Linked DNA regions of Homo sapiens: region 2 is linked to region 1. Evidence: fine-mapped expression QTL. A gene starts in region 1. The other region holds a variant in brackets. All regions are shown on one strand. Distances are between the middles of the regions. Region 1 holds the start of TBC1D1 (TBC1 domain family member 1). Region 2 overlaps TBC1D1 (TBC1 domain family member 1).

Evidence for each region.
Region 2: its variant is fine-mapped to the expression of TBC1D1 in monocytes after Pam3CSK4 (Quach 2016, PIP 0.95).

The regions. Positions count from the first base shown.
Region 1 is chr4:37,889,248-37,893,629 of GRCh38, reverse strand. It overlaps TBC1D1 (TBC1 domain family member 1), which reads right to left and starts at 2,546. Exons shown (of 22, transcript NM_001396959.1): 1 at 2,282-2,546. RefSeq lists enhancers at 399-678, 1,109-1,238 and silencers at 939-988, 2,018-2,517, 2,838-3,027.
Region 2 is chr4:37,975,704-37,980,085 of GRCh38, reverse strand. All of the region lies in intron 2 of TBC1D1 (TBC1 domain family member 1), which reads right to left. Among named protein-coding and RNA genes, the nearest start is that of PTTG2, 17 kb to the right of the region's middle. RefSeq lists silencers at 2,148-2,447, 2,468-2,517, 2,638-2,757, 2,828-2,897. The variant G/A (reference allele first, on the strand shown) is at 2,195.

The DNA of each region.
Region 1 (4,382 bases):
CCAGGCTGGTCTCGAACTCCTGACCTCAAGTGATCCACCCGCCTTGGACTCCCAAAGTGCTGGGATTACAGGCATGAGCCACCATGCCTGGCCATGGACTCAGTCATTTTAATGAGCAGATTTTACTTCTCAAGTTTAATGACCAAGAGATGAAAACTGCTGAGAAATATATAAAATATTGAAACTAACGTGGTCATTAAACTTGAGAAGGGCAGCACGGTAGACTGGAAAAGGGCAAAACAAATGATCCTGAGGCACCCACACATATACAGGAAGTCCCCAAATGGGCCGTGATACATTTTCAGTCCTCTGGGAATCTGAAAAGAGCAAAAACTGGGGACCTACAGAGAAATGCTGTGGAGAGAGTAGGAAGGACTTCAGGGAGCTGCCATTCTGTCAGATCAAATTAAAAGCATGTTCAAAGACAGAATCCTCTTGAGCCCCTTGCTCTCCTCCCTACCATCTACTCTAGAAAGCTGGTGGCCAACAGAGCAGGCAGCTGTGGTGCCTGCTCCAGGCACCAAGACAACTGAAGATGCTGCTGTGAACACAGAAGAGGTAACAGCCATGCTGCTTGATTCAGGCTCCCCACTGCTTGCCAGGGTTACATCCTAGAAGATCCTAGAAGATCTGGACCACAAAAAAGCCACCCGCCCACATCTGGCTCTGCATAGGGGTACATCTCATTGTCATTGCAGCCTTCCTGGTCAAAGCTGTCTTCTAGGGAAGTGGGGGACAGGGATTATCACCAGCTGGATAATGAGGAAGAAGGGGCAAGCTCTGTTGCTTCAGAGTTGCACGTTTCCTCCTAATACCCACTAGTGTTTTGACAAACTGTGCCTTATGGGACACCAGGTCAACACTGCATGACTGCCACCCAACCAGAAATGCTGTCGTGGTGAAAAGGGGAAGCCCCAGCACTCTCAGTGGGGTAGATAACAATAGACTATGACAAGGAGACGCATTTGCAAAATTTTCCTTTGAAAACGTAATGTAATAATTTATAACTACACTAGTGATTTTTTTTCCTATTCTCCTGGTTTGCAAATGGCTGGACAAATCCACAGGAAAGAAATTATTTTAATTATCACCTGATGATTTTATTTCCTGCTTTGAACCACTTAGTCCCTTCCAGGTCTCCTTGCACTCAATAGTGTTAGAATGCTCTACTTGTGTTCACTTCAGAAAATGTCCCCTAAACTCTTTTTTTTTAAGAGATGGGATCTCACTTTGTCACCCAGGCTCCAGTGAGGTGGCACAGTCATAGCTCACTATGGCCTCGAACTCCTGGGCTCAAGTGATCCTCCTGCCTCAGCCTCCCAAGTAGCTGGGACTACAGGTGGGTGCCACCACCCCTAGCTCATTGAAAAAGTTTAGAAGTTTGAACTTGTACAGATAGCTGAGTTTCTTGGGTGTGACCTATTTAAACCAGGTCATTTTTAAATGCTCTTTCAAAGTCTGATTTTATTAATAAATGAAATCATCCCATCATAAGGGAAACAATGAGAAATCTATGAAGGGAAAACATATCCATTAATATGAGGCACCCTGAAAATTAAACTGTTTGGTGGAAGGAACAACCATCACTTTCAATTTCTTTTTAAAGCAACTTCCAGAGAATAAGCTATGTTAAGTAAAATCAAAACAGGAAAAGCCACATCTAGGTGGATTTCAAACGAAATGATACCTCTCTGAAAAAAAAGCAAAAACAAAACCTTAATGCCTGGTGAAGTTTGAGGGGGGTCTCATAATCACAGAGCCATCAGGAAGCGGCTAGAAACAATGAAGCAGGGTTTCAAAATGACTGGTACAGGATGTACCCATAGAAAGAAATGTTGCGCGCACTGGTGGAGCTGCCAAAGTTACTACTGCAAAGTACCCTGAACTTTTAAAGCGTGGCTTGGGGTCACTCTGACCACACTCTTTCCAATCTGGTCGCCTTGCAAACACGCTAGGATAATTGGCGGGAGGGGGGAGGGGAGAGATGCGCGGACCAGTGAGCTGGCGGGGGTTGGGGGAGAAGCCGGCGGAGCTCTCGGGTCGCTAGCAACATTAAGGTTTCGCTTTCGTCCAAGGGCGGCGGGGGTGGGGGGGTAAGGGGGGCAACGAGATGGCAATGAACTTCCTCCCCCGAGAGACCCTGGCCTCGCGTCCGTGGGCGGCCAGATGCCTTCCCCTCCGCGGCCAGGCGGGGCAGGGGCGTGCTGCGGGAGGGGGCGGCCGCGACGCCCCGAGAGGAGCCAGCAGGGTGGCCAGGACGAAGCCCCAGGAAGCGCCTTACCTGTGCCGCGGCGCGCTCAGAGCCCGGGGCCGGGCCGGGACGCGCAGGTGCTTGGGGGCATCCTGGGGACGGCCTGGGCGGGCGGGGAGTCCATCGCACCCGGCTGGCTGCGCTCTTCCCGCCGCGGGGGGACGGGGAGGGGGCTCCCCTCGGCTCGGCGCCCGCCTCTTCTCCACCCAGCTGAGGACACAGCAGGTCCCGCGGCGGCGGCAGCAACAGGCACCGGCGGACGGTGGCGGCACCAGGAGCAGCAGCCGAAGAGGAGGAGGAGGAGGAGGAGGAAGAAGAGGAGGAGAAGGAGGAGGTGTCTGCGCGCGGCTCTGGTTTCCTCCTCCCAGCCTGGGCGAGCGCGCTGGAGGCGAGGGGAAGACAGGAGCCGGGATCTCCCCACTCGGTCCCCGGGGAGCTGGGAGGGGGACTCGGTGTCCTCCTCCTCCCCACTGCGCCGTGTGACTGTGCCTGGGCAGCACGGCCCGGACGGGCGAGTCACACGCGAGCAACAGCTGCTGCACTGCGGGTCCGCCGCGGCCTCCCTCCCCTCCTTGCCACCCCCCGCCCCCAAGCCCGCGGGCCATCCTCAGCCAGTGTCTGTGGGGGGAATAGGGGGGAAGTACTCGGGCCGCCGCCCCATCCAGACCCCTGCGCAGGATCTGGGCACAGCGTTTCCCTGGGGAGCCGGGGGCGCGGGGCCCCGCGCGTGATGCAGGCCCTCGTGGCGGGATGTACAGTCGCACACCCTGTCCTTGGCGGCCTATTTATAGCAGGTGGCACTGCCCGCCGCTTGCTCGGCCTGAGTGGCTCTCAGCAGGTGGCACTGCCTGCCCGCTCTCCGCGCTCCCGAAGGCGCCTCGCCTCATCTGCACCCTCCTCTTCTCCCTCCGAAACAGACGTGGTGGAAACTGCACACAACATGGGGGGCGGGGGCCGGGGGCGACCAAGCCACCTTGCTCTCCCCCGCCTTACCCCTTCTCCCCGTCCTTGGAGGATGGCAAGAGGTGAACTGAGGCACGGATGCCCTATGGGGCGCTGGCATGCGAGGCAGGAAAATCAGGGACTCTGGGAAACAACGAAGGCGAAGTGCCCTCCCGGGATTAAACACCAGGAAACTCCATTTCTAACCAATTGCGGGAGTGACGCAGAGCCTGGATTAGGCGCTTTTTCCTGCCCCGCGAGCCCGGCACACGCGCAGGAACACACACCACACGCACACGCACACCCCAGTGTGCATGCCCCGATCAGGTCTGGGGACATTCCCAGCGGTGATGTAGAGTGCAAGGAAAGACGCGGAGATGTGAAAAGCGGGACAGAGCTCGCTCCCTAAGACTAGGGGATGGCAGTGTGCAAAAAACAGGCGAAGCTCCCAGATCCCTATCCCACCAGGCACAGAGGCGCAACGTCACTCGCAGGGTGGGGAGAGGGATCTGAGAAAAGTAAGAAGCATCACATCCTCTCCAGAGAAGAGTCCGCAGGGAGGGGAGAGCCGGGTGCTCGGAGGAGGCAGTTCCAGACCCCCAGGTGGCATCTTTCTGGATTTTTTTACTTAATGTAGCTGGGGGTGGACTTTAGGGAAGTGGCTGAGCGTTTGAGCTGTACGGTTGGACTTGAATCCAAATCCCAGCAGGTGTGGTTTAGGCAAGGTGCTGGACCTCTGGTCTTCATTGTCTTACCTGCTAAATGGGACCAATACACACCTTACAGGATCTTTGTGAGGACAAAGCAGGAAAGTGTAAGTAAAGTGGCCAGTGCAGTGACACAGACGTACATGGTCCTCAACTAAAAGCAGCAGCTATTATCAATATTACTGTGGCCCAGGAGGCAAATAGAGGGCCAGGTTTCCTCATCGTACCAAGAGCAGTGTCTTCCTTGAAGCCCACTGAGCTTCTTGTAGGCTTTTAGATTAGGGCTGTCTTATGGCATTCCCTGATTTCCCTGGATGCTTACATCCAGGGGAGGTATTTTTAAGTGGACCCAAGAGTTTTATTCACAGCTTGACTTAAAACTCTCACAATAGTGGTAGCTATTCTTTACGGAGGAGTTAGTCGATTTGGGGTATTGTGCTAGATACTGTCCTTATATATTGTTGCTAATTTGCTCAAAAACT
Region 2 (4,382 bases), 86 kb before region 1:
CATGCTTGGCCGGGGGCGGTGGCTCACACCTGTAATCCCAGCACTTTGGGAGGCCGAGGCAGGTGGATCACCTGAGGTCGGGACTTCAAGACCAGCCTGACCAACATGGAGAAACCCTGTCTCTATTTAAAAATACAAAATTAGCGGGGGTGGTGGCGCAAGCCTGTAATCCCAGCTACTCGGGAGGCTGAGGCAGGAGAATCACTTGAACCCAGGAGCCAGAGGTTGCAGTGAGCCAAGATTGTGCCATTGCACTCCAGCCTGGACAACAAGAGCGAAGCTCTGTCTCAAAACAAAAAAAAAGAAAAACACATTCGTGCTCAGGTATCCATGTGAATCAACCGACACCCACCCCTTCTCCTTCCCCACCAGGTGTTCAGCTGCAGTTGCAAAGGTCAAAATGAAAAAGGAAAAGGAAAGTCAGCTGCGTAACTGGATGTGCAGGTGTTTGTGTGAGGCCTGTGCTCATGTGCAGCTGTGTGTTTCTGAAGGGGCATTCTGAAGTCAAATATAACAACTTCAAGATTATTCACATTGTGTACATTATCTATGCCTTTTGTCTTTGTCTTTAGGATATTACCTAGTTTGTAATGTAAAGTGTGTTAATGACTTGCCTCTTCACCGTAAACCACATCAGTTCCATAGAACATCATTCTTACAATCTATAACTCCAAGAAATAAACTTCCAAAGACTAATTTCGTATTCTAAAATCTTTCACAGGATAACACGTTATCTATAAAAATCATTCAATTTCGGGATATAATTTGTAATGCATGCACCACCTACAGGAAATGAAATATAAAATAACCACATTTTAAAAATGTATGCTAAGAGGTATACATGAATTTGCTCCAAAAACATTTAATAGTTTTTCCGCTGTTGTCCTGTAATCGAAATAATAATTTTGAGGGCGGGTGTGGTGGCTCACATCTGTAACCCCAGCACTTTGGGAGGCCAAGGTGGGGGCATTACTTCAGCCCAGGAGTTCGAGACCTGCCGGGCCAATATGACAAAACCCCATCTCTACTGAAAATACAAAAATTAGCTGGGAGTGGTGGCGCACAGCTGTAATCCCAGCTACTGGGGAGGCTGAGACACAAGAATCGCTTGAACCTGGTAGGTGGGGGTTGCAGTGAACTGAGATCGCACCACTGCACTCCAGCCTAGGTGACAAGAGTAAGACTCTGTCTCAAAAATAATAATTTTGAAATAACAAGATTCAGAATCCAAATTAAGCTACCAGCCTACATTTCCTCTATATAAACTTTTCCAACGTACTGACACTCGGAGAAGGCTAACAATCGTCCTAAAAGTCTGTGATGGTTTTTGAAATGACTTTTTAATGACTCAAAACGTTTTTGAAAGTCATCTCATTTTACCACCAGCTATGTTTCAGGAAGTGATTCTAATGGAATGTTATTTACCTAGTAAGAAAATCTACCTAAAAACTTTTGCCCATCTAAAAACTAGTGTTATCTAGTTTCTGTGTCTCCAATTTTGTATCACTTAAATCACAGGCAAAGCCATACCTGCTCACAAACAGGTATTCATAAAAATGTAATTAAATAAGACTATAAAAGCATTGCATGATAACTCAAGACATAACCACCACCTAATTAAATTATTAATTGGTAAAGCCTCACAGTATGGCTAACGAGTTGTGAGCTTATTACTCAACCAGCCATACACAGGAAACAAGCCCTGGGAAGGCGCCGGCCAAGGGACTGAGTGCATGGGGTGACAGCAAGATGCCCTAACGACCAGCGAGCCTTTCAAGGTGGCGAGGGTCGCATCCTTTAAAACACATTCAGACACCTGGCACTGCAGGAGTGGATAAAAAGAATGCTATTGATGCTATTACTGTGTTCTCGAACTGGTGGGAACTCGGGAAATCTACACTTATGCCTTCCTGTTAGCAACAGTGCAACTGGCCTGGATTTGCACCACCCAGTTATCTCGAAGGCGCTGATGTTCTGAAAATAAAACTTTGTGGGAATGGAAAGTTAAAAACTTCTATTTAAAACTCAGACCTCAGAACATGCCCTTTGAAACCAGAGGGTTAAAAACGAAAGACAGACGCCCCTTGTGGGCACCAGCCTCTGGGCATCCTCGGCGCCCTGTCCAGGCGGCCCAGCGCAAGCCGACTTCTGCGAGGGAGACACACGAGGGCGACACCCGCGAGGGAGACACGCG[G/A]GGTCGACTTCCGCGAGGTCCCGCGCCGGGGAGGCACCGAGCGGCAGCTCCGCGGCGCGGGGAGCGACAGGGGCCGGAGGAGCCGCCTGCTGGGTTCGGGCTCCCGCAGGGGTCCCCGAGTACAGCCTCAGTCTCCCCAACTGTGAAATGGGCGCCGCTACCTCGCCCGTCCTCCCCACAGGGATCTGGGAGACTAATGAATGAGAAACGCGCGGCTAACGACCTGGTCGCGCCCGCCGCTCGCCCCCCGCCGCGCCTGGCCTCCAGCGGCCCGGCCCAGCCCCGGCCCGAAGGTTACAAATGTTCCAGCCCCGCGCCTGCCGCTCCGCTCCGGTAACGGGCGCCCGCCCGACGCCGCCTACCTTGGCCACCCAGCTGAACAATGGTGACATCGCGGGCCGGGCGGCGGCTCTTCGCCCGCCGGCTCCCGCTCACTCCCGCCGCCGGCCCGTGGGCCCGCGGGCGGCCGGGGGCGGGCTTGGGGAGCGGCGGGGCCGGGGCATCGCTCTCCCCGGCGGCGGCGGCGGCGGCGGCGGGCTCCACCCAGTTCGTCACTGCCCCGAGAGGTCGCGCCCGCGGGGCGGCCAGGCAGAGAAAGGGAAGTGGGAGGGGAGAGCGCGGGGAGGGGGTGGGCGGGGGGAGGAGGGGAGAGGAGGGGAGGGCGCGCAGCCGACCCCGCCCACCCCCGCGCTCCGCTGCTGGCGGGAAGTTGGGACATGCTGGGGTCGCCCCCTTCCGAGATGCCCAGGGCTGCGCAGGAAACCCTGGAGGCTGGGGACGCGCCTTTCCAGGCCTCTGGGGTCCGTTTCGCACAACTTTCAGAAATCTAAGAATTCCTCCCTCTCCGAGGTTCCACAAAAGCCCCAGAGTTGGAGCTAACACAAAGCCCGCCCAACTTTCCAGGGGTGACCCCCACCCCCAGGGCTTTTCTTCCTAAGCGCTTTAGATTGCTAGTAACAAAAGACCAGTGTTCCCCAGCCCCTAATACCTTTATATAATCAAAGGTGGTTTTCTTGGAGTCAGGAAACTCGGCCATTGAGACCAAAAGTGGGGCAGAGGAAAAAGAACCATTTAGCTCCTGCCTGCCAGGAGGCTTTAGCAACTTGAGAAATGTTGATTTCACCATAGTTTTCTTCTCTCCCAAGGCAAGATGATGAGACAAGGTGGTCAGTTTATGGCTACAAAGGTAAAGCTGAGTTTCAATCCCAGCCACTCCTGAGTTCCACGTTGAAAAAAAAAAAAGTCCAAAGGTTTAATCGCTGATGTGTTATGCATGTGTCAGGTGGAACCACTCACTGAGTTCCTCAGGCCAAATGGCCAACCCAGCCCAAGAATTCTGCTTCTCTTTTCCTTCTACTAATTGTGCATTATCTTCTTGAAGGACCATTGGGACATTTTAATGTTGTTCCCTAAATATCTGGCATCTGAGTTTAGTGAGGGTATTAGCTACCTATTGCTGTATAAAAAGTTACCCCAAAACTGAGAAGCTTAAAACCACAAACAACTTCTGTGGGTCAGAAATCCAGGAGCATCTTAGCTGGATGGCTCTGGCTGAAAGTCGCCCTAAAATTTCAGCCAAGCTGTTAACTGAGGCTGGAGTCATCTCAAGACTGGCCTGGGACTGAAGGATCCACTTCCATGCTCATTCACATAGGTGTTGCCCGTATTTAGTTCCTCGCAAGCTGCTGGACTCAGGGCCTCTGTTTCTTGCTGTTTCTTTCCATAGCACTGATCAGAAAATGGCAGTTTGTATCCCCCAGCACAAGTGATCCAAGAGAATGCACAAATCCAAAAACAGTGTTTTATGAATTAAGATGTGACATCCCAACACTTTTGCTCTATTACTGTTTGTGAAAAACCAAAGACATAAGTCTAGTCCACACTTAAGGGGAGGAGATAATATAAGGACATGAATATCAAAAGGAGAGGATCATGGGGGATTGTGGGCGGCAAGCCACCCAGCTGCCAAGGCAAGAGACCCAGGGCACGAGCTGTTCCAGTATAATAAAATATATAAAATAAGAATAGTTATACTAGATATAGATCTTAGATATGATTATATATGAATATCATTAATCATTAGTTTGTAGCAATTATTCTTTATTCCAATATTATAATAATCCTCGCTCTACAATCATAACCTAGGAAAAACCAGGCCATACAGAGATAGGAGCTGAGGGGACATAGT